Linked DNA regions of Homo sapiens: regions 1 and 3 are each linked to region 2. The links come from fine-mapping of genetic effects on gene expression. A gene starts in region 2. Each other region holds a variant in brackets. All regions are shown on one strand. Distances are between the middles of the regions.

The links. PIP is the estimated chance that this variant, and not a neighbour inherited with it, causes the effect. A credible set is the group of variants that fine-mapping cannot tell apart.
Region 1: its variant is the best candidate, but not a certain one, in a credible set for the expression of RCE1 in blood mononuclear cells (TOPMed, PIP 0.71).
Region 3: its variant is the best candidate, but not a certain one, in a credible set for the expression of RCE1 in cerebral cortex (GTEx, PIP 0.63).

What each region holds. Positions count from the first base shown.
Region 1 is chr11:66,710,715-66,718,955 of GRCh38, reverse strand. It overlaps SPTBN2 (spectrin beta, non-erythrocytic 2), which reads left to right. Exons shown (of 38, transcript NM_006946.4): 4 at 2,975-3,126; 5 at 3,561-3,734; 6 at 4,549-4,640; 7 at 4,785-4,865; 8 at 5,210-5,325; 9 at 7,927-8,039; 10 at 8,187-8,241. It also overlaps the pseudogene RN7SL12P. Among named protein-coding and RNA genes, the nearest start is that of SPTBN2, 14 kb to the left of the region's middle. The variant C/T (reference allele first, on the strand shown) is at 4,794.
Region 2 is chr11:66,838,541-66,846,802 of GRCh38, reverse strand. It overlaps RCE1 (Ras converting CAAX endopeptidase 1), which reads right to left and starts at 3,362. Exons shown (of 8, transcript NM_005133.3): 1 at 3,163-3,362; 2 at 2,942-3,044; 3 at 2,764-2,847; 4 at 2,439-2,517; 5 at 1,767-1,934; 6 at 1,566-1,637; 7 at 1,241-1,303; 8 at 251-943. The coding sequence starts at 3,347. The coding sequence ends at 708. It overlaps TOP6BL (TOP6B like initiator of meiotic double strand breaks), which reads right to left. Exons shown (of 15, transcript NM_001302084.2): 14 at 3,734-3,954; 15 at 3,287-3,634. The coding sequence ends at 3,569. RefSeq lists an enhancer at 2,785-3,491 and silencers at 3,132-3,571, 3,682-3,821, 5,039-5,165.
Region 3 is chr11:66,650,008-66,658,007 of GRCh38, reverse strand. It overlaps a transcript of RBM4 not described here. Among named protein-coding and RNA genes, the nearest start is that of RBM4, 15 kb to the right of the region's middle. The variant T/G (reference allele first, on the strand shown) is at 3,233.

The sequences.
Region 1 (8,241 bases), 130 kb after region 2:
TGAAGGCGCTGGCAGTGCCCTCCTCCGCCGCCCCGCAGGGCCTGGCCCTGCCCCCGCCGGCCACACTCCGCCTCTCTCCCCTCCCCAACACTGTCCAACCTGTTTGTCTGGAGCCGCCTGTCTCCTCTCACCGCAGCCAGGCGTGCCCCCACTCTCTGTCTCAGGAGTTCGGGACACCCCGTAACTCTTTTTGCCACTCCTTGAAATTCCCACCATTCTTGAATCCCCTGACGCTGGACTCCAGCCTGAGGTTCCACTGGGGAACAGAAACTGGCCCCCTGCCAGCGGGGAGCATGGACTCTGGGCCCTGGGCTCTGTAACTAGCAGCTGGCAGCATGAATGGGAACGGAGTGAGCAGGGTGCACGGGAACGGCCTGCATGAGGCCAGCGAGTTTTACTATGAGGCTGTGGAAGGGGCCCACAACCCCGGGGGCCTCCTGCTTTCACCAGCTGCTTTCATCAACCCTGCTCAGTATGCCAGCGTGCTGGAAGGACGCTTCAAACAGCTGCAAGGTGAGGCCCGGGGGCCCCCTGTGGGGACGACTGTGCCTGGGCGAGAGGGACCTGGGTGTGGGGAGAGTGGCCGGAGCTGAGGACCTGGCACAGGACACAGTGTGACTCCAGTGTTTGTGTTGGGAGACAACGTGATGCAGCTTAGAGGGGATAATTACAAGAGGCCGGAAAATACACAGATGTCAACGGAATGGGGAAAGGCTTGGACCTGCTGGCAGGGACCGTGTATGATGGCATGGGTGGGTGTGACTGCCGGGCCTTGGGGTGCTGCATGGAGCAAAGGCAACTAGCCATGGAGGGCGTGGGGGTGCCAGCACCTGGGGAGGCGCCAGCAGTGCCTCTGAGGTGGATCCGGATCTGGCGGTGGAGCGCTGGCCAGGACAGTTAGGGGAGGCGGAGGGGTGAGCCAGGCCCAGGGACCTGGAGATTGTGTTTTCCAGGCCTCTGAGCGTGTGTCTGAATGTGTACACGGGGGCAGTGTGTGTGGAAGCAAAGGGAGTGTCTCGAAGGAGAGGATCTGTGCAAACAGGCCCAGGTAGATGTCTGCGCAGGTGTGTGTTCACTCTGGCACAAGTGCTTAGGTGTGTTTTTGGGAATCACTGTTGTGTGTGTGTGTGTAAGGATCTAGGGATGCTGTGGGCGTCTTGTGACGTGACACTTGGTTTCTGGTGCTTGGCTTTGCCCATTTTCCTCCTAGTTGCCACTAATTCTGTGTCTTCTGACTGTGTGCCAAAATGGCCTCACCCCAGGGTGCCCAGCAGTAGGGCAGTGCCCCTGGATCCAGCAATGGCCTGTGACCCACGCTCCTCCTGGCTCAGATGGGGCCTGTAGACCTGCCGGGAGGCCCCAAGGCACCTTGGTTTCATGGGTGCTGGGGAGCATGGGGCCGTCCCATGTTATTAGGACCCCAGGTTTGGTGCCAGTATAGTGGCTGGAGGTGAAAGACACGGAGCGACGTGGGTGTGTTGCTGTGTCTTATGGGTGAGGTGCTTAGGAATGTGAGATTAAGGGATGAGTCTTTCCGGTTTCTGAGATGCTGGTGCTGAGACGGAAGCAAAAGTGACTCTTCAGACCCCAGCCACTTGGGTTGGGTCCTTGCACAGGGCTCTCTGTGGGAAAGTGGCAGAAATCCTCATCACCAGAGCAGTTTCTGATGCTTTCACTTTGTCACTTAGAACGTTCTTAATTTTTATTTTCCTACGGAACCTAGTATTTACTTCCCCTCTTCAGTAGCTCCCCTCCCCTGTGGGCTGGGCAGCAGGGCATTGCCTAACTTTTTTTTGAGATTGGTACCTAACTCTGCCTGGCTTTTTTTCCCCCATGTTTCCTGGCCTCACTGTTTTCCCAGTTCCCAACTCTCAACATCTTGTTCTTCTAAGCAATGGGGTGTTTATGTCCTGGAACTGGATCCCCTTGCAGCCAGCTGAATGTACTGTCCCCAACCCCCAGAAGCAGAGGAGCCTGCCTTTTCTTTAAGTTATCCAAGGACAGTAAGCTGACTCAGGAGGCCTGCAGCCTCTATACCATCAAGTCCTAATGACCGCTTGGAAGAGCCGCTGCAATAATTTTAGCCCACACCTTCTCCTTTGTCTGCAACCAAAAGAGAACAGCCATACCTCCCACCGGCCTGGGCAGCTCTTGCTCTCCTTCGGGCCAGATCACACCACTTTATAACAGCAGCTCACCAAGGAGCCATTTTGTGCCAGGCACCAACTAGTTGTTTTATATACCTTATCTCATTTAATCAACACAATGACCTGTTGAAGTAGAAAGTGATGTTCCCATTTTACAGATGAGACATTGGGGCTCTGATGAATGAAGTCACTTGACCAGCATTCCACTGCTTCCACGACTGCCCCATCCCAGCCCCTCCCTGCATGTCCCATGGTTTCTGAGGATGAAAGGTCTTCATCCTTTCTTCTCAAAGCCTATTTTCTTTTCTTTTCTTTTCTTTTTTTTTTTTGAGACGGAGTCTTGCTCTGTCGCCCAGGCTGGAGTGCAGTGGCACAATCTCGGCTCCCTGCAAGCTCCCCCTCCCAGGTTCACGTCAGTCTGCCTCAGCCTCCCGAGTAGCTGGGACTACAGGCGCCCGCCACTATGCCCGGCTAATTTTTTGTAATTTTAGTAGAGACGGGGTTTCACCGTGTTAGCCAGGATGGTCTCGATCTCCTGACCTTGTGATCCGCCCGCCTTGGCTTCCCAAAGTGCTGGGATTACAGGCATGAGCCACCACACCCAACCTTCGCCTATTTTCTGTCTTTCATCTTTCTTCTTTACCTTGCTTATGAGCTCATTGCAAGTTACGGGCTTTCCTCCCGGTCATCTTCCTTCCCTTCCTCCTCCTTAGAGGACCCCGCTTCCCATCTCTCAGGCTTCTCCATCCCCCACCCCTGCCAACTGGTGTTTAGAAGCAGGCATACTGAACTCGAGGGACAGAAATAAACCCATGTTGCCACCACAGATGAACGAGAAGCTGTGCAGAAGAAAACCTTCACCAAGTGGGTAAACTCGCACCTGGCCCGGGTCACGTGCCGGGTGGGGGACCTGTACAGCGACCTCCGGGACGGACGCAACCTGCTGAGGCTCCTCGAGGTGCTCTCGGGAGAGATACTGGTGAGCTGTGGTCATGAAGGGAAGTGGGGGGGCCTTAGAAAAGTGTCCAAGGGGACCAGCTGGAAGAACAGCCCTCAGAGAGAGTGACGGCACAGGGCGGGAAGCAGTGGCTCCCTCTGCTCAGAGGATGGGTTCATTTCAAGTGCCTTTGCCACTTAGATTACATAGGAGCATTGCTTCATGGAGACAGGAACAGTGGCCCCATTGAAAACATTTCTTTTCCCACCTACTCTGGGTGCAATTAATTCCCTTGGGAATCTTAATCTGCCCAAGCCTCATCTGTAAGCTCAGCTTTGGCTCCAGCCCTGGGGCTGTGCCTGTCTGTGTTCCTGAGGTAGGTCATGGGGAAGGTGTGCAAAGCTGGGCCCTGTGAAGGCTGGGGAAGAAGGTGGAAGCCCACAGTCCCGTGCCATTTTGCCCCCGTCCCTCCACAGCCAAAGCCTACAAAGGGCCGCATGCGGATCCACTGCCTGGAGAACGTGGACAAGGCACTGCAGTTCCTCAAGGAGCAGAAAGTGCACTTGGAAAACATGGGCTCCCATGACATTGTGGACGGAAACCACCGACTGACCCTTGGGCTGGTCTGGACCATCATCCTTCGATTCCAGGTACCCCAGCACACTGTCACACAGGGTGTGGTTCCTGCCCTGGCTCTGCACCGCAAGCCGTTCCTGCTGGCCCATGACACAACAAACACAAAGATGGAGGATCTAGAACCTTATGTAGCAGCTGCCATGGCGGCGCTATCCAAGCACCAGATCAGTGGACTCCCCTCTTTCAGCAGGGTAGAAACCAGCTTGGGTGAATGTCACACCCCTGTGGCAAATTCCCTGTGTTCTGGTCTGTGTGTTGGTCGTGTGCAATGGGACCAGGACCACAGGTTGGTCCACAGGAGACTGGAAGTTTTACCAACTGGTCCTTCACCACAGGGATTTGGGAACTTCTAGAGGGTCTGGTCACTGGCACCAATTCCCTGCCATAAACTCTGCCTGCCTCCCCCAATGGAACAGTCACCCTCCTCCTCCTCATGCCCCAGTGTCCTCATGCCATCACAGCGTTCCTGATCACCCCCTTCCTTCCCGGGTTCTGTCGGCTTCACCTTGGAGAGCCAGCTTTTAGAGACCTTGGAGAGCCAGCTCTCAGAAAATGTTCACTCTTCTGCCTGCAGTTCCCCACCTGGAGGGACCAGCACCCTCCACTCAGACACACCCATTCTTCAGCATCCTACCCTAATCTGCTGCCTCAAATCCCTTGCACCCAGTGTTTTGTGGTCCCTGGCCTAGGTTGAAAGGACCTCAGGCTATGCCTGTCCACCCCATTACCACAGTCTAAAGAGCAGTTTCCTGCCATTTATCTGAGCATCTCTGATAACACCAGGAGTTCCTGTCCAGGGACTGAGGGCCCTGCTTGCTTCCTTCCTAGATCCAAGACATCAGTGTGGAGACAGAAGACAACAAGGAGAAGAAGTCAGCCAAGGATGCCCTGCTTCTGTGGTGCCAGATGAAGACTGCAGGGTGAGGACACCCTGGGCGTGTGGCACTGGAGGGTCAGTGACCCCCAGGCTGTGCTGGGCTCCAGGAACCATGAGCTGGTGACTGCCCTGGAGTCATAGAACAGAGCTCAGCCCTACTCACCATTTTCTGAATCTCTGTTTATAGTTATCCCAA[C/T]GTCAATGTACACAACTTCACCACCAGCTGGAGAGATGGACTAGCTTTCAACGCCATCGTGCATAAACACCGGTGAGAAGATGGGGTTAGCAAACGCAGCAGAGCTGCTGGGTCGGCTAATGACCTGGGGTGCACATGTGGAGACAGAGATGAGATGAGCTGCACAGCAGTCAGACGGAAGGAATAGCACTCGGAGCAGAACCAGAACATGGGGGTGCAGGGCTGCGCAGAGCACTTGTGATGGGAAGCAGGGGAGGTGGTGTGGGGAGGGGCTGTGAGCAGCAGTGTGGGTTTGGGATGCCTACTTCTGGACAAAATTGGGTCGGTGACTTAGGGATAAAGATTGGTGTGGGTTTCCTCTTCCTCTTCGAGATCTCACATGTTTCTGATCCCTTCTGTCTTGCCTCCCCACCCAGGCCAGACCTGCTGGATTTTGAGTCTCTGAAGAAGTGTAATGCACACTATAATCTGCAGAATGCATTCAATCTGGCTGAAAAGGAACTGGGACTTACCAAGCTGCTGGATCCCGAAGGTGGGGCCAGAGCTATGTGAAAAAGAGGTGGTAGGGTAGAGACAGGAGGTGGACCAGTGGTTGCCAGGGGCTGCGGAGGGGGAAGACATGGAGTAACCACCAACTGATACAGGGGCTTCTTTGGTGGGGGAAGAGAATGTTCTGGAATTAGAAAGTGGTGATGGTTACACAACCTTGTAAATATACTGAAAAACACGTGGTTGCTCACACCCAGCACTTTGGGAGGCCAAGGCAGGAGGATCACTTGAGCCTAGGAGTTTGGTACCAGCCTGGGCAACATAGTGAGACCCCATGACTACCCCTCCCCCCCAAAAAAAATATATATCTTTACACTGAAAACCACTGAATTATATACATTGAAAGGTTGAATTTTATGGTGTGACAATCATTTCTCAGGTTTTTTTTTTTTTTAACAAAAGACTGTAGGTAGGAAGAAAGGCAGCCCAGTGACAGAAAGAGCCCTGGACTGTGGGTTGTGTCCCAGGCAGAGCACAGAGGAGCTCTGTGACATACAGCCAGTGGCTAGCCTCTCTGTGGCTCAGTTTCCTCATGTCTTAAAAGAGAGAATTGGTCTCTAAGGGCTCTTCTGAAATTCTAGGATTCTAAATTAAGCTACATGTTGCTGGCCACGGTGGTACCTGCCTATAGTCCTAGCTGCTAGTGAGGCTGAGGCGAGAGGATCACTTGAGCCCAGGAGTTCTAGGCTGCAGTGGGTTATGCTGATTGGATATCTACACTAAATTCAGCACTGGTGACCTCCTGGGAGCAGGGGACCAGCAGGTTACCTAAGGAGGACTGAACCAGTCCAGGTCAGAATGGAGCAGGTCAAAACTCCCACACTGATCAGTAGTGGGATCACACCTGTCAATAGCCACAGTACTCCAGCTTGGGCAACAGCGAGACCCATCTCTATTTTTTTAAAACAAATTTTTAAGAAAAAAAATTAAGCTGCATGACCTTCCACTCTCACCCAGAACTGGCCTGTAGTCAGCTGACCTTGCTGATTGGTTCCTGTGGTTCTGGTCATAATGCCGATGAGATCGATGAGATCAGTAACAGCCACTGGGCTCTTTTTTTTTTTTTTGAGACGGAGTCTCACTCTGTTGCCCAGACTGGAGTGCAATGGCGCGATCTCGGCTCACTGCAACCTCCGCCTCCTGGGTTCAAGCAATTCTCCTGCCTCAGCCTCTTGAGTAGCTGAGATTACAGGCGCATCCCACCACGCCCGGCTAATTTTTGTATTTTTAGTAGAGACAGGGTTTCACCATGTTGGTCAGGCTGGTCTCTAACTCCTGACCTCGTGGTCCGCCCACCTCGGCCTCCCAATGCGCTGTGATAACAGGTGTGAGCCCCCGCGCCTGACTGCGATTAGGCTCTTATTTGATACCTGGTTCTGCACTTGATGTGTTTTAATCTTCACAACACCCCTTTGAAATCAGTACTGTTGTTATCCTCAGTTTATGGAAGAGAAGATGGGGGCCTATAATGGGTAAGCAACTTGCCCAGGTCCTCCGGCAGATGGAGCTGAGATTGGCGTTCAGGCAGCCTGGCTCCAGAGCCTGTTTCCTCCGCTGCCTCTGGGAAAGTGGAGACCAATCTTGGTGCAACCAGAACAGGGAGGAGAGAAAGGCTCGCCTGCTGGAGGTGCTCCTTAAGTTCACTGGGTGGATGTTCACTGGTCTTGGCCATTTTCTCCCTGTTTTCCATTCTACCTGTAGCCCTATCACCTGGGCCTTTTTACTGCAGAATGACAAGTGTCAGCGAGCTAGCAACAGACATAGGCTTCATGCAGTGCTCCTTGGAGAGCCTCTGGGTAGCATGGCTGTAATTCAGAACCTGGAAATAAAGCTAAGCATTCTGTAACTTTCCGAGATGACTTCAGTGGCTCCTGCCTGCCCATGTATTTCCAGAAATAGGCAAGAGGCTTCTGGTCTCATAGTCTTACCTTTAGGATAAAATCTGGCCTATTTAAAAGAACCCACAGATTTCAAGTTATGGTCAGCCTCAGTTGTGCGCTGGAAGCCAATTCGGCTTGAAAGACACTCCCCTCCTTGGGCCCACAGCTGAGCTTTAGGATTGAGGTTAGAAACGGCGTGATCACACCTGGAGATGGTGCTGAGAGCTGGCCTCTGTCCCCACTGAGCTGCAGGGATCACAGGGCCCATCGATCTGAGCATCCTAGGTTCAGGAGGCTTAGTTCATACCTTCCGTCCCACTGCCCCTCAATCCATTGACTTCTTAAACATTATTCTAGCCTAAAAGTCCATGATCCATCCCCACATAGCAATGCTGTTTCTTTTCTTGCTTTTCTTCCCCAAACAACTGATTTTGGTCTCCACGGGGAACTCTGGGTAAAAGCTTCCTTGTGCTTCTGGGGTTTGTGCTCTGCTTGGAGGGCCCTTCTTGTTTCCAGGAGAAGGGGAAAAAAAGATGAGCTTTTTGGTGCCCTTTTCATTTGAATGGGTAAGTTGTCATTTTGCTCTAAAAGGAGATGGAGAGATGTCAGCCTTGGAGGACTGGGCAGGCCCAGGGTTTGGGGTAAGTGATGCAAGTTATGGATGAACTTCTGGGAGGCCTGACCCAAATGGTCCTCTCTTGCAGACGTGAATGTGGACCAGCCAGATGAGAAGTCAATCATTACCTATGTGGCTACTTACTACCATTACTTCTCCAAGATGAAGGCCCTGGCCGTGGAAGGCAAGAGAATTGGCAAGGTACTGTCCATGGGCAGTAGGCATAAAGGCCAGAGGAGGCCCGGCTGAGGGGTCTTACTGCCCTAGTGCAAGGGCAGGGTGGAGCTGCAGGACTGGGCCAGGGACCCTGTGGCTGGGACTGTCACGTCCCTGTCTTCTGCCTCCCAGGTGCTGGACCATGCCATGGAGGCAGAGCGCCTGGTGGAGAAATACGAGTCCCTGG
Region 2 (8,262 bases):
GCCCCAGGATGAGCTGGGCTCACACCTGGTACCTGCAGTCTCAGAGCCAACCACACTAGGACTTTGGGGCATGGTTCAGGAAGGAGGAAGCCACAGGCTCCCAGCAACCAGAGCTCCCAGCCCATCCTGTACTCCAGGGAACTACCCGCCTGGATGCACCGCCCAGATGTCAGTGTTCAAGGTAGCTGGGACAGGTGGTGGGCACACTCCCAAGAGCTGCCTAGAGTCTTCACACAAGATCCCAAATAGACCGATTCCCAAAGGCCCAAGGCCATGTTACCCAAGTTAAATCTCTTTAATATCCCAATACAAAGTACTGATGCAAAAAGACAATGAGAAAACCCAGGAAGTTGGGGGGTGGGGGGTGGGGAGAGGTTTTATAAATAAAAAACCCCGAGCAGCTTTTCAGAGGCAGAGGAGCTAAGAGAAGCAGCAGTCCAAAGTGAGGAAGGGAGTGTGTGGCTCCTGGGACCTGCCCCTTGTCCCCTCACTCACAGCTGCTCGTAAACACCCCTTTCAAAAGGGGCTGCACCCTTTGGATATCTGCTTCTTTCTCTTGGTCCCTGGGACGCAACTAGCTCTGGCTTCAATCCCCTACAAAAATTCCTGAGATCTCGGGGACCCCAGCCAGCCCTTCCCCTGCAGTACCCCTTGGTGGGGAGGGCTGGGGAGCCGGTGAGAGTTCATAGCGTATCCAGGAGCATAGGTCAGGAGCACAGGGGAGCCTCTGAGTCCCCTGCCCGCTCCAAAAGCACACAAAGGGGAAGGCTGCCGTAGAGCTTGGGGTCCGTGAGGGGCTGGAGCAGAAGCAGGAAGAGTCCCACACCCAGGGCATAGCCTGCCAGCAGGGGCCGCCTCTGTGGGTGCTCCAAGGCCGCGCAAACAGCTGGGAAACCCATGTAATTGCAGAAGGAATGGCAGAGAACCGGCCCAATCAGGTGTCCTGGGGAAAAGAGACAGCAGCTCAGGGAGCAGCCCTACCACCTCCTCTGGCCCTTCCAGGGCTAGTGACCCTCATCCCCTGAAACAGGAGATCAAGATCCCACTACCCCAGCCATCCACCCACACACCACGGCCTCTGCTCCTTTCCACCTCTCAGACCTCACCAGGCTGAGGGCTCTGGCTCAGCCTGTCTCAAGGACTGGAGTAGAAGAACTTTTGTTCCTAGAACAAACAGTATTCCCATTCTCCCACCCGCTCCTGTGGGCCCCCAGGGACCCATGAGGGACTGAGGACCAACCTGTGCGGATGAAGAGGAAAGCAGTGTAGGCACCGAAGACAGCTGTGTAGGAGAACTGGAACGCTGGAGACGGGGAGGCCACGAGTGACCACACCTGCACGCCCTTCCTGCCCCCACACTACATACCCATCAGCCAAAGACCGACCATCCCCTCCCCCCGGGGCAGTAGCTGCCTGCCCCACCACCTACAGCTGTCCTGCACCCCAACTTCCCACGGTCAGTGGCCTCTCCAATACTGTGGCCCTCAGTTCCCAATTCCTTCTCCAGAGTGGCCATTAGCGACATCATCATACACCCTAACCCAGGCCAGCTAGCCAGGACTCACCAGCAGACAAGAAGATGTTCCCCACGCTGCTCTGGCGGAAACGCAGCTGCTCAATAATATGGTGAAAATGGGCTGGGAAAAAGGTGACAATCACATCACAGTCATTCCTCCCAGCCTCCCTTCTAGGACTGCCCCTCACCTCAAGCCCCCTTCTGAGCTCTCATGCTGAAAACACACCAGGACTAATCTGGCCAGACTCACCAACTCCAAAAAAGAGCGGGCAGGTGAACACAGCAGGGCCCAGGCCCATGCACGGTGCTAACATGGGCAGCATACAGGCCCGGAACACCAGCTCCTCTGTCAGCGGGGCGATCACTTGGTTCCGCAGCCAACGCATGTCTGTGAGGCAGCGGGCCCAGGAGCGGGGGGCTGCAGAGGGAATTCAGGACAAGCTGTGAGTGACGGGCTGTCAGACAGTGAGACCCCAGAGGCTCCAAGGGCTCCTCTCCCACAACTTTACCCTGGCCAAACTCAGGTTAGGCATCAATACTGCTGAGGACGGGGGTGTGGACCCAACATAAACCCAATGTCTTGAGATGACCTGAATGGAAGGCATTAGCTGAGGCAAGGGCATCCTGGAAGTAAACTCTGGAGACACCAAAATTTAAGCAAGACTAGCTCTGGTTGGGGAAGCAGGGGACAGTGCTCTCTGATCCACACCAAATACTGCTGGGGGTTCCCAGGGAACTCCTTGGACGTTGGCAATCAACCCTTAGAGGCCACCTAGCTCTATGTTTCCATTTTACTGATGAGAAAACACACCCAGAGAGATGACATTTCACGTGTCCAGATCACACCCTGAGCCCGCTGACTCCCTGCCCCAATGTCCTGGACTGCCTGTGCCTACTTTTCCCTTCAGCCTTTAAGACTCACCCAGGACAACCTTCAGCCCATCTGCCAGGTCACAAGGGCAATCCATAGAGAGCTGCATCAGTGGGCCCAGGAAAAGAATCTGAGGGCAAGAAAACACTTTCACCATAACCCACCGCTTTTGCCCAGACCTTTGCCCATGCTCCCTGAGACTCCAAGCTTGAAATCCTCTCCAGCCACGATTTCCAGACCATGCATACCGGAGGACCCTGGGGCCATCTCAAAAGTCCTGTCTCCCATCAACCAAAAACCAAAAACAAGAGTCCACGGCACTGCCCATCAGGCTGATAACAAAGACCAGAAGAAAAAATACAGCAGGAGCACTCACCATGGTCAGCAACAGGGGCAGCAGCGCCGCTGGGAAAATGCCCTCCAGCCTGAAGCCCATCAGGGTGAGCAGGGATGTGCCTGGCTGAGCCACAGGAAAGGGGGCATCAGTTTTGCTTCCTCCCCTAAAGACCCCTGAGCTCTCACCGCCGTTGCCCTTTGCCCCGCCTCCTTCGCACCTGGATGCCTGTGAGTTCCCTCCAGAGCAGCACGCACAGGGGTGAGAGACTGGACACCACCAGGACGCTGGTGAAGCGTCGCTTGATGACCGCGGGATGGTCCCTACGGAGGGGACAGTAAGTTCAGGGGGCCCGCGGCTGCCCATGAGCACGGACCCGCCCCCGGCTCGCCCAAGCTCCGCCCGCAGGGCGCGGATTCCGGTCGCGCGCAGCCCCCGCACCTGGGCAGTTCGCTCTTCCAGACGTAGAGGCTGCCCACGTAGGAGCAGGCGAGGCTGAGGCAGGAGAACACTGACACCCAGCAGCACAGCCCGGGGCCCAGGCCGCCCAGCGCCGCCGACTCGGGCGGCCGCTCCGGCCGCGACACCGACAGCAGTCGCAGCCCATCCCCGCCCAGCGCCGCCATTGCGCCCTGACCCGCGGCGCGCACCAGTGACGCAGTCCCAGGGAGGTGTGGGTGACGTCAGGCCGCGGCGCGGCTCCACGCCCCGCCCCGCCCCGCCCGGGCCCGACGCGGAAGCAGACGCGGAAGAGGACTTGGTGAGCGCGCGGCAGCTTTATTAAACCACGGGATAACGGCTGCCCGCAGCCTCCGGATCGGTGGGCGCTTGCGGAAGGGGACCCGGCTCAGGGCCCAGGGCTGGGACTCAGCCACTCTGACAGGTTGGAGACCTCCTGCAGCCACAGCACGTCCTGCGGGAACAAGGGGGCCCGGGGTGAGGACCTCTCAGCAGCGGCCCGTGGCCTGCACCTCCTGCTGAGCCCTTCCCTGCGCGGCCCTCGCCCAGTTACCTCCAGGCGGCTTCCGAGGCTCGCCCTGCCCGGCGCCAGGGCCCTGCCGTGAGCCTCGCGGTGCTCCCTTCCTCTAGGAGTGAGGGGGGCCGCGGTGGCTTCCGGGCGGCGCGGGGCGGCCTCTGACGGGCTCGGGGCCCTGGCAGAGCGCAGAGCTCGCATCTCCTCTATGCGGGGGCTGCCCCTCTTGAGCCTCTTGTTTTCTGCTTGCCCGCTGGTATCTAGGAGAAAAACAAGCCTCTTCATCTTACTTTCATGGCCCTGTGCTAGGAGCACCCTTGGCCAAGGGGAAGCCTGGGAGAACGGGCGCCGAGGGGCTCTTCCCACCGCATCCCTGTCAGCAGGTCCCATCCACACCAAAACCCTGCAGCTGTGGGCGCTTCTGGAGCAGCCCGAGGCTGCAGAGACGTTTCAGGGTCTCCCTATTCTCTCACCCAGGCGGGAGATTGTCCCGAGCCCTCACTTGGGGGACTCAGGCCGCTCAGTAACTTTCTGTATAGATTCTTCCTGGAGTCTGCACTGACAAGCTCCCCTCCCTGCCAGCCTCTGTCCCCCCTCACCTTTCTGGCCTCAGTTCTGTCTCCCTTTGTTGCTCACGTTGCATTGAGCAGTGCCCATAGGCAGCTTTCCTACTCTTAACTGATTCATTTGTCAAATTAAAGCGAGTTTAGATGGATAGATTCTTCCCCAGCAGGTCTTGGGGATGCAGATCAATGAGCTTTTCCCTGAGAGAAGCTCACAGATGCTAGGAGGGGATGCAGACCTGTGTACAAAGCCCAGGGTTAGAATAGAGAAGGAAGCCGACCACCTCTGGATGTGAAGAAGGGTTTCCATGAGGAGATACCTGAGCTGACCTTTTGTTTTTTTGAGACAAGGTCTTGCTCTGTTGCCCAGGCTGGAGTGCAGTGGCTCAGTCCTGGCTCACTGCAGCCTCGACCTCCTGGGCTCAAGCGATCCTACTGCCTCAGCTTCAGCTTCCAGAGTACCAGGAACCACAGGCGCATGCCACCACACCGGCTAATTTTTTTTACTTGTAGAGACAGGGGTCTCACCGTGTTGCCCAGGCTAGTCTCAAGCTGTCCTCCCGCCCCAGCTCCCCAAAGTGACGGTATTACAGGCATAAGTCACCACTCCTGCCCCAGAGCTGGGTTTTGAAGGATGAAGAGTGATATGCCAGACAAGGGAGAGAAAGGGAATTTCTTGCTGAAAGTTAACACAAACCTTATGCAAAGGCATAAAACAACTTCCTATGTAAATTTTTACTTTTTAAAGATGAGGTCTCGCCTGTCACCTAGGCTGGAGTGCAGTGGCGTGATTGTAGCTCACTGCAGCTTTGAACTCCCGGCCTCATCCTCTCGAGTAACTGGGACTAAAGGCACACACCACCTTGCCTGGCTAGAAACAGATTTTCATCTGTAGAAGACAGGAAGCCAATAAAGAGTTTTAAGCACTGGTGAAATATATTGGTAATTTTGTACTTCAGAAAGATCGTTCTTTCAAAGGTGTGGCTTAGATCAAACTAGAGACAGGAAGACCTTAAGAGCCCAATAACAAGTAAAGACAGTGGAGATAGAGGCGTCACCAGGAATCAGAAGTGTTCATCAGGCCTAAGTGATAGGCCTTTGTGAGCGCCTGGATGTGGGAGAGGCCTCTTGGCCGGGCGCGGTGGCTCATGCCTGTAATCCCAGCACTTTGGGGGGCCGAGGCGGGCAGATCACGAGGTCAGGAGATTGAGACCAGCTTGGCCAACATGGTGAAACCCCGTCTCTACTAAAAATACAAAAATTAGCTGGGCATGGTGGTGGGCGCCTGTAATCCCAACTACTCAGAGGCTGAGGCAAGAGAATCACTTGAACTTGGGAGGCAGGGAGGTTGCAGTGAGCCGAGATCACGCCACTGCACTCCAGTCTGGGCAACAGAGGGAGACTCTGTCTCAAAAAAAAAAAAAAAAAAAAAAAATGAGAGGCCTCTTGAATGAATCCAAGATTTCAGATGTGATAAATTGGATTAATCATGAAACAGACTAAAAGTCTCTTTAGTCAGGAGAGAGGAAACTGAGGTACCAATGGGACCTCCACGAGGAGCTGCCTAGTGAGCAAATGAATCTCCCAGCTGGCACTCAGCAGAGGCCTTGGCTGGTCATACCAATTTGAGAGTCTTGAGCCCAGAGGCAGTGGTCAACAGTTGGGATGGAAGATAGCTGGGTGGGAGAGCAGGATGAGCACTATTTAGGCATGACCAGAGGAAAGTAGATGAAGAGAAAAGCCCAGGGAGGGAAAAACCAGGCGAGTCATAGCCTTACAGTGCCAAATTTTGCACATAGTTCAGATACAATGAAGGTAAATGCAAAATTTGGTAATTAAGAGGCCTTCCCTGAGGAGAGAAGTTTCAGAGGCCACAGAAAAAGCAAGTACCCTAAGTGAGGGAGAGAATGAGAGGAAGAAAGGGAGACAGGGTGCATGCAGCTTGTGGTTTTGAGATCCTTGGCTGAGATGTGAGGGAGAGAGGTTGAGGATAAGTGGAGGAAGTTCAAGGTCACGGGAGATTTTCTTCTGATGAAATGAGAGCTTGACCTGCTGAGGGAAAGGAACTCAGGGGAAGGCTGAAGGTGCAGCAGTGATAACTGATGCAAGCAGGTCCCAAGAAAGCAGAAGGGACGATCCCACTGTGAGCCTGGAGGAAATGGGTCCCCACACTGATGAGGTTCTGCAGTGGGAGGGTGCAAGTTGGGTGAGTTTACTGAGAAAAGAGATCCGTAAGTATGAAGCAGGAGGCAGAGACTGGGTAGATTTTTTAAAGAATGGAGTAGCCACTGAGGGACAAAGGCCAGAAAGGCAGGGGGAAGGACTGACAAACCAAAGGCTCCTGAGTGAGTGGACCACCAATGGATGGTGGCATCAACACACAGTTTGGTGATTTTCTTCAGCAGGGCTGCCCATGTGAGGCGTAGAATGGATGCTGAGAGCCACAGGTCTGTAGGACAGAACAGCCCAAGCCATCCTCCAGGGGTTCCACCAGATTATAAACACCTAGATTTTAAAGCTCATGTTGCACACTGGAGAAAACATGGGCTTTGGAGGCGGCAAACTGAAAGTCATTACCTCCTGCTAAGCGTTCTGCCTCACCTGAGCCTGGGTCCTCTAGTTTGTTAGGATCCATGCCTCCCCCTGCCCCCAGAAGGGCACTGTAAAGACTAAATGAGATAAGGCTGTGGAAGACCCCAGCATCTCCCCAGGGTCCACAGAAGGTACTGAATTAAATGTTAATTTTTTTCCTTGTATGGGAAGATACTTATTCCTTTGTCTCTTCTGACTGCATAAATACTGAATTGTATGTATCATATTTGCATTTTTTAAAATCTCCAGATCTAAATTTATAAAAATAGATTCTTTGCTTTGTACAAGCGTTCACAGCAGGGTTCTTTTCAGTAGCAACAGCCCCCACAACATTTAAAACATGGTTCAGTTGACAGTGATTTCAGGGACACATCTTAGGCCTAAGCATAAACGCGTATGTGTTGTGGTTGTGACCCTAGAAAGAGGGATTTACCAACCAAGCATAGGTGCTGACGTCACGATCCCCAGCTTCCCTTGACCCAGATACTGTTTTATCTGAAGGACTCAGGATCTGTAGGAGGGCATCCCTGCTAATTCGGCTCTTCCAGAGACAGCAGAGCTAGGCTGCCTGGGTTTGAATTCTTGCTCTGTCATTTACTGGCTGTGTAGCCTTGGGTAAGTTTATTGATATCTGTGGGCCTCAATTTCCTCATATGCAAAATGAGAGTTAATAACAGTACCTATAGCTCCTAGGATAGTTTTGAGAACTAAGAGCATTAGTACATTTTAAAAGCTCAGAATAGTACCTGGCATCTCTGCTAGTGACTGAATGTGAGAGCTGCTGTACCCCTGCTGCTGTGGGCTGGGAAGGCTGTTTAAGCACTGCAGGAGACATGTATGGAGAAAAGACTTCAGTATAATTGCAATCACAACCCACGCACTGACACTTTCCCATAACACACATTAAGAGTGACATGGTGCCAGGCCGGGCGCGGTGGCTCACGCCTGTAATCCCAGCACTTTGGGAGGCCAAGGCAGGCGGATCACAAGGTCAGGAGATCGAGACCATCCTGGCTAACACGGTGAAACCCCGTCTCTACTAAAAATACAAAAATTTAGCCGGGCGTGATGGCGGGCGCCTGTGGTCCCAGCTACTCGGGAGGCTGAGGCAGGAGAATGGTGTGAACCCGGGAGGCGGAGCTTGCAGTGAGCCGAGATGGCGCCACTGCACTCCAGCCTGGGCGACAGAGGTGAGACTCTGTCTCAAAAAAATAAAAATAAAATAAAATTCAGGGCCCTGAATCTGCGTATTACCTACCCCCACCCCATCATGTGCAGCTATCTGTAACTGCACAGACTTTAATACAAATTTCTAGTCCTGTCCTAACATCTTGGGGAGGGAAGACCTGCTGCTGCCTTGAAGACCCACAGTGGCAGCAACAGCCCACTAAATTGCAGAAGGACGCCGCTGTA
Region 3 (8,000 bases), 190 kb after region 2:
TGGCTCACGCCTGTAATCCCAGCACTTTGGGAGGCTGAGGCAGGCAAATGGCTAGAGCTCAGGAGTTCAAGACCAGCCTGGGCAACATGGCAAAACCACAACTACAAAATACAGAAATTAGTTGGGCATGCTGGCATGCGCCAGTGGTCCCAGCTACTCGGGAGGCTGAGGTGAGAGAATTGCTTGAGCCCGGGAGGAGGTGGAGGTTGAACACGGCACTCCAGCCTGGGTGACATAGGAAGACCCTGTCTCAAAAAAAAGGTGGGGGAGGGGGCAGGCGAGGTGGCTCATGCCTATAATTTTTTTTTTTTTTTTTTTTTTTTTTGAGATGGAATCTTGCTCTGTCGCCCAGGCTAGAGTGCAGTGGCGCTATCTCATCTCACTGCACCCTCCACCTCCCGGGTTCAAGTGATTCTTCTGCCTCAGCCTCCCAAGTAGCTGGGACTACAGGTGCGCACCACGACAACTGGCTAATATTTTACATTTTTAGTAGAGACGGGGTTTCATCATGTCGGCCAGGCTGCTCTCGAGCTCCTGACCTCAAGTGATCCACCCCCTCGGCCTCCCAAAGTGCCGGGATTACAGGTGTGAGCCACCGCGCCCGGCCTAATCTTAGTAGTCTGGAAGGCTGAGACAAGAGTATAGCTTGAGCCAGGAGTTCCTAACCAGCCTGGGCAACATAGGGAGACCCCATCTCTACCAAAAGATAAAAATAAAAAATAAATTAGCCAGGTGCAATGGTGCATACCTCTGTAGTTCCAGCTACTTGGAAGGTTGAGATGGGAAGACCGCTTCAGCTCAGAAGGTTGAGGCTGCATTGAGCCATACTCATACCACTGTACTCCAGCCTAGGCAACAGAGCAAGACCGCACCTAAAAAAAAAAAAAAAAAAAAAAAAAGACTAAAAAATTGATCAGGGGCTGAGGATTAACTACAAAGGGGCACAAGGGCTTTTTGGCTGACAAAAATGTTCTGTATTTTGATTGCAACAATGGGAACAAGATTGTAACCATCAGTTACCAAAATTACCAGTACATTGTCAAACTGGGCATGGTGGCTCACGACTGTGCCTATAATCCCAGCACTTTGGGCGGCCAAGGTGGTGGATCACCTAAGGTCAGGAGTTCAAGACCAGCCTGGCCAACATGGTGAAACTCCGTCTCTGCTAAAAATATAAAAATTAGCTGGACATGGTGGCATGCATCTATAATCCCAGTTACTCAAAAGGCTGAGGCACAAAAATCGCTTGAACCCGGGAGGTGGAGATTGCAGTGAACCGAGATCATGTCACTGCACTCCAGCCTGGGCAATAGAGTGAGACACCATCTTTTTAAAAAACAAAACAAAAGGCCCCCCAAAAAAGTACATTGTCACAATGTGTCAAATTGTTTTCAAAATTGGTATATTTTATTGTTTGAAAATAATACTTCAGGCCGGGCATAGTGGCTCATGCCTGTAACCTCAGCATTTTGGGAGGCCAAGGTGAGCAGATCAACTGAGGCTGGGAGTTCGAGACCAGTCTGACTGACATGGAGAATCCCCGTCTCTACTAAAAAAATAGAAAATTAGGCCAGGCACGGTGGCTCACACCTGTAATCCCAGCACTTTGGGAGGCCGAGGCGGGTGGATCACAAGGTCATGAGATCGAGACCATCCTGGCCAACACAGTGAAACCCTGTCTCTACTAAAAATACAAAAACAAAATTAGCCAGGCGTGGTGGCAGGTGCCTGTAGTCCCAGCTACTTCAGAGGCTGAGGTGGGAGAATGGCGTGAACCCAGGAGGTAGAGCTTGCAGTGAGCTGAGATTGTGCCACTGCACTCCAGCCTGGGTGACAGAGCGAGACTCCGCCTAAAAAAAAAAATACAAAATTAGCCGGGCATGGTGGCGGGCACCTGTAATCCCAGCTACTCAGGAGGCTGAGGAAGGAGAATCACTCGAACCCGCGAGGCGGAGGTTGTGGTGAGCTGAGATTGCACCATTGCACTCCAGCCTGGGCAACAAAAGCAAAACTCCATCTAAAAAAAAAAAGAATACTTCAGGGCCGTCTCTTCCTGGTTCTTCCCAGAGTCAGGAAAAACTGGGTTGAAAGGGTGTTTAAAAAAAAAACTCAGAAAAGCTGATTTTTTAAAAAAGTAATCACATTATGACACTGCTTAAAAACCTACAAGACTAGTTGACTCAGAGTGAAGGCCAGAAAGGCCCTAGAAGATTAACTACTAGATCTGCTAACTACCTGACCTCTTCTGCTCCTCTCTCCTCCCACTCACTCTTTTGCCACTGGCCTCCTTACTGTTAGAACACTCCCACCTTAAGACCCTTGCTCAAGATATTCTCTCTACCTGGCGTACTTTTCCCCCAGATACCTGTTGCTAACTTACATCTAATTCAACTCATTGCTCAAATCTCACTTTTTTAAAAGAGGCCCAGGCCGGGTGCAATGGCTCATTCCTATAATCCCAGCACTTTGGGAGGCCGAGGTGAGAATCGCTTGAGCCCAGGAGTTCAAGAGCACCGTAGGCAACATAGCGAAACCCTGTATCTACAAGAAATACGAGTGGGATGTAGTGGCATGCCTGTAGTCTCAGCTACTCGGGAGGCTGGGGTAGGAGGACCAACTGAGACTGGGAGGTGGAGGTTGCAGTGAGCCAAGATCACCCCACTGCACTGCAGTCTGGGTGACAGAGTGAGACCCTGTCTCAAAAAAAAAAAAAGAAAAGAAGTGCCGAGTGCAGTGGCTCATGCCTGTAATCTCAACACTTTGGGAGGCCAAAGCGGGTGGATCACCTGAAGTCAGGAGTTCGAAACCAGCAGGGCCAACATGGTGAAACACCATCCCTACTAAAAATACAAAAATTAGCCAGGCGTGGTGGTGCATGCCTGTAATCCCAGCTACTGAGGATGCTGAGGCAGGAGAATCGCTTGAACCTAGGAGGCAGAGGTTGCAGTGAGCCGAGATCATGCCACTGCACTCCAGCCTGGGCAACAAGAGCAAAACTCCATCTCAAAAAAAAAATTTAGCTGGGCGTGGTGGTATGCGCCTGTAATCCTAGCTACTCAGGAGGCTGAGGGAGAAGAATCACTTGAACCTGGGAGGCGGACGTTGTAGTGAGCCGAAATGGCGCCACTGGACTCCAGCCTGGGCGACGTAGGGAGACTCCATCTCAAAAAATAAAAAGAAATTATCTGTAGGCTGGGCACAGTGGCTCACACCTGTAATCCCACCACTTTGG[T/G]AGGCTGAGGCAGGATGATCACTTAAGCGCAGGAGTTCAAGACTAGGCTGGGCAAAATGGGAAAACCTTGCCTCTAAAAAAAAAAAAAAAACAAAATTAATCAAAACTGAGCTGGGCGTGGTGGTGCGTGCCTGTAGTCCCAGCTACCCAGGAGGCTGAGGCGAGAGGATAGCTTCAGCCTGGGAGATCAAGATTGCAGTCAGACATGTTTGCACCACAGCACTCCAGCCTAGAGGACAAAGTGAGACCTTGTCTCAAAAATAAAAAAAATTTTTTTTTTGAGATGGAGTCTCACTCTGTCACCCAGGCCGGACTGCAGTGGCACTATCTCGACTCGCTGCAAGCTCTGCCTCCCGGGTTCACGCCATTCTCCTGTCTCAGCCTCCCGAATAGCTGGGACTACAGGCGCCCGCCACCACGCCCAGCTAATTTTTTTTTTTGTATTTTTAGTAGAGACAGGGTTTCACCATGTTAGCCAGGATGGTCTCGATTTCCTGACCTCATGATCCGCCCGCCTCAGCCTCCCAAAGTGCTGGGATTACAGGTGTGAGCCACCACGCCCGGCCAAAAATAAAATTCTTCTAATAGTAGGATTTGGTGGCATATGCCTGTAGTCCTAAGTACTTGGGAGGCTGAGACGGGAGGATCATTTGGGCCTGCGAGCTACGGCTGCAGTGAGATAGATAACACCATGGCACTCTAGCCTGGATGACAGAGCAAGACCTTGTCTCTAAAATAAGTAATATTTTTAGAGAGGGTCTTGCTGTTGTCCATGCTGGACTTGAACTCCTGGGCTGCTCAAGCGATCCTTGCACCTCGGCCTTCCAAGTACCTGAGACTACAGGTGCATGCCATTGTGCCCTGCTTATTTTTTGCCTTTTTAATTGAGGCATATATTCAAAGTGTGAGTCCCTATCCTGGGCGACAGAGCAGGACTCTGTCTCAGAAAAAAAAAAGAAAAAAAAAAAGAGAAAAAAGAAAACCCATGTATAATTTTTGACTTCCCAAAACTTAGTAGCCTGCTGTTGACTGGAAGCCTTACAGGTCATATGTCAATTAACATATTTTGTGTGTTATATGTATACTGTATTCTTACAATAAAAGCTAAAGAAAAGGTTGGGCGCGGTGGGTCACACCTGTAATCCCAACACTTTGGGAGGCCAAGGCAGGTGGATCACCTGAGGTCAAGAGTTCGAGAACAGCCTCACCAATATGGTGAAACCCTGTCTCTACTAAAAATACAAAAGTAAGCTGGGCGTGGTGGCATGTGCCTATAGTCCCAGCTACTCGGAAGGCTGAGACAGGAGATTTGCTTGGACCCAAGAAGCAGAGGTTGCAGTGAGCCGAGATCGCATCACTGCACTCCAGCCTGGGTGACAAAGCAAGACTCCCTCTCAAAAAAAAAAAAAAAAATCATTAAGTAGAAGTGAATCATCATAAAGGTGTTCATCCTGATAGTATTCATGTTGAGTAGGCTGAGGAAAAGTAGGAGGAGGGGTTGGTCTGGCTGTCTCAGGGGCGGCAGAGGCAGAAGAAAATCCATGTATTAGTGAACCTGCACAGTTCAAACCCTTGTTGTTCAATGGTCAACTGTACAAAGGAAGCCCCAAACTCAGTTTGGTGTCAATCTTCCTTACGTTGTGAAACTGAGAAGTCCCATCTTGTTGCATATCTGAATACAAACAATTCTGATGTTGGACAGAGGAACTCAAACCAGCAGGCACACACAACCCTCAATGGAACCACCAGCTCCCAGTGGACAGAGTACTCAGCCTCCCTGTTAGTTGTGACAACTTAAGACAAAAATGAGAGCAGTAATACAATGCTCAATTCACTCATCACTAGCTACGTACTTTCTCCTTTGGTGTCTTGTCTCCTTAAGGGACAGGAAGCACCATCCCTGTTTTGGTGGGGGTGCGGGTGGGGTTGTATGTTTCAGACAGGTCAGGTCTCACTAGGTTGGCCAGGCTGGCCTTGGAACTCCTGTGCTCAATCTTTGCACCTCAGCCTCTGTAGTAGCTGAGACTACGACATGCGCCACCACGCCCGAAACCAACCCAATTTTGTATCTGAAGGGTGCTATTTACCTGCCATAAAGTAACACGAGTCCCTATTCCTGTCAGATTTGCATCTCATGAGAAGCTGGAAGGTTCACTCATGTTAAGCCATCATAATCTGGCTTGACAAAATAGAGTTCTTAGCATGACACAACTTAATAATGCAAGAACATGGTTTAACAAAGCAAATATTAAGGCTTCAAAAAGTCCCCTGGCCCCACCTTCCCCAGAACCCAACTGCTTTTGCCATTTTAGCTGTTTTTTACCTTTATTTCTGAATAAGATGTTCATAATCCATTTGCCACTTTTAAAAATTTCCTCATTTCAGCCAGGTGTGGTGGCTCACGCCTGTAATCCCAGCGCTTTGGGAGGCCAAGGCAGGCGGATCAAGAGGTCAGGAGATCGAGACCATCCTGGTTAACACGGTGAAACCCCGTCTCTACTAAAAATACAAAAAAATTAGCCGGGCGTGGTGGAGGGTGCCTGTAGTCCCAGCTACTTGGGAGGCTGAGGCAGGAGAATGGTGTGAACCCGGGAGGCAGAGGTTGCAGTGAGCCGAGACTGCACCACTGCGCTCCAGCCTGGGTGACCAAAAAAAAAAAATTTTTTCATTTCTATGAGTTTTGCTCTTATACGTATTACCCACCCATCGCCACTTCATCAGATTATTATTTTAATATTCAGAGCTGCTACGATCATAACTAGGTAAATATCACACACAGTTGAATCTTGCTATAGTTTTGAGTGTTTATGTCCCCCCAAAATTCATGTTAAAATCTGAATCCCCATAGTGAAAGTATTAGGTACACTTTTGAGAGGTGATTATGCCATAGAACAGAGCCCTCATCAATGGGATTTGTGCCCTTATATAAAAGAAACTCCAGAGAAATCCCTCACCCTTCCTGCCTTGCAAACTCAAGACAGAATCCAGACACCACGTCTGCCACGGCCTTGATCTCAGCTTTCCCAGCCTCCGAAACTGTGAGAAATAAAATTCTGTTGTGTATAAGCCATCCAGTCTTACGGTCTTTTGTTACAGCACCTCAAACGGACTAAAAAAATCCTCCTGTTGGCGGGGCATGGTGGCTCACGCCTGTAATCCCAGCACTTTGGGAGGCCGAGGCAGGCGGATCAAGAGGTCAGGAGATCGAGACCATCCTGGCTAACACGGTGAAACCCTGTCTCTACTAAAAATACAAAAAAATTAGCCAGGTGTGGTGGCGGGCGCCTGTAGTCCCAGTTACTCTGGATGGTGAGGCAGGAGAATGGCGTGAACCCGGGAGGTGGAGCATGCAGTGAGCCGAGATAGTGCCACTGCACTCCAACCTGGGTGACAGAGCAAGACTCCGCCTCAAAAAAAAAAAAAAAAGTACTTTCTCTTGCTACAACCTGGACTACTGTTCTCCAAATCCACTGCAGAAAGGGAGTCCTGGGACTTCCCATCACCATCATCCTGGGAATTTCCTTTACCTCAGAATGAGATCATGTGTAAGAACACACAAGTACTGAGAGCAAACTGACCTGGGTAATTTGAAACAGCACTTAATACTAGTGCCAATGATCAATGATCTCACTCTCACTACTCCATCCCCCCCCGAGTCTACTTTAGTACTGATGTGTAGCTCTAGGGTAAGGAGCCTGGTTTAATTTAGCATTCACCCAAAACAACCCCAATTTTGAGGATGCCTGGGAAACTTTTGAGACAGGATCCCACTGTCACCCAGGATGGAGTCCAGTGATGCCATCTCTGCTCACTGCAACATCCGCCCCTGGCATCAAGCAATCCTCCCATCTCAGCCTCCTGAGTAGCATGACCGGCTCATTTTTAAATTTATTATTATTATTTTACTTATTTTGAGACGGAGTCTAGCTCTGTTGCCCCGGCTGGAGTGCAGTGGCGCAATCTCAGCTCACTGCAAGCTCCACCTCCCGGGTTCATGCCATTCTCCTGCCTCAGCCTCCCAAGTAGCTGGGACTACAGGTGCCCACCACCACGCCCGGCTAACTTTTTATATTTTTAGTAGAGATGGAGTTTCACCTTGTTAGCCAGGATGGTCTTGATCTCCTGACCTCGTGATCCGCCCACCTCGGCCTCCCAAAGCGCTGGGAATACAGGCGTGGGCCACCGCGCCTGGCCTATTATTATTAAGACAGACTTTCACTCTCGTTGCCCAGGCTGGAGTTCAATGGCGCAATCTCAGCTCACTGCAACCTCCTCCTCCCAGCTTCAAGCAATTCTTCTGCCTCAGCCTCCCAAGCAGATGGGATTACAGGTGCCCACCACCATGCCCGGCTAATTTTTTGTGTTTTTAGTAGAGATGGGGTTTCCCCATGTTTGACAGGCTGGTCTTGAACTCCCGACCTCAGGTGATCTGCCTGCCTTGGCCTCCCAAAGTGCTGGGATTACAGGCGTTGAGCCACCACGCCTGGCTGGAAAACTTTAAAGGCAAAGTTAACAGGGTTAACATCAAGTTAAATTCCAAGATCACCCTGAAAACTGCCCTCACAGGTCCTTTGACCCATGCAGAATCAGGCCGAGGCACATGTCATCAATACAAAATAGTATGACCATTCCCACCCCGAACTGACTTCCAAGGACATACCAGTTATTTGTACACCCAAGGCCCAGACAAGCAGCAGCTTGTGGAGGCACAGTGAGGACAGGCACAATGCCCTATTCATCTTTGTATTCGCCACATGGTAACCTAATT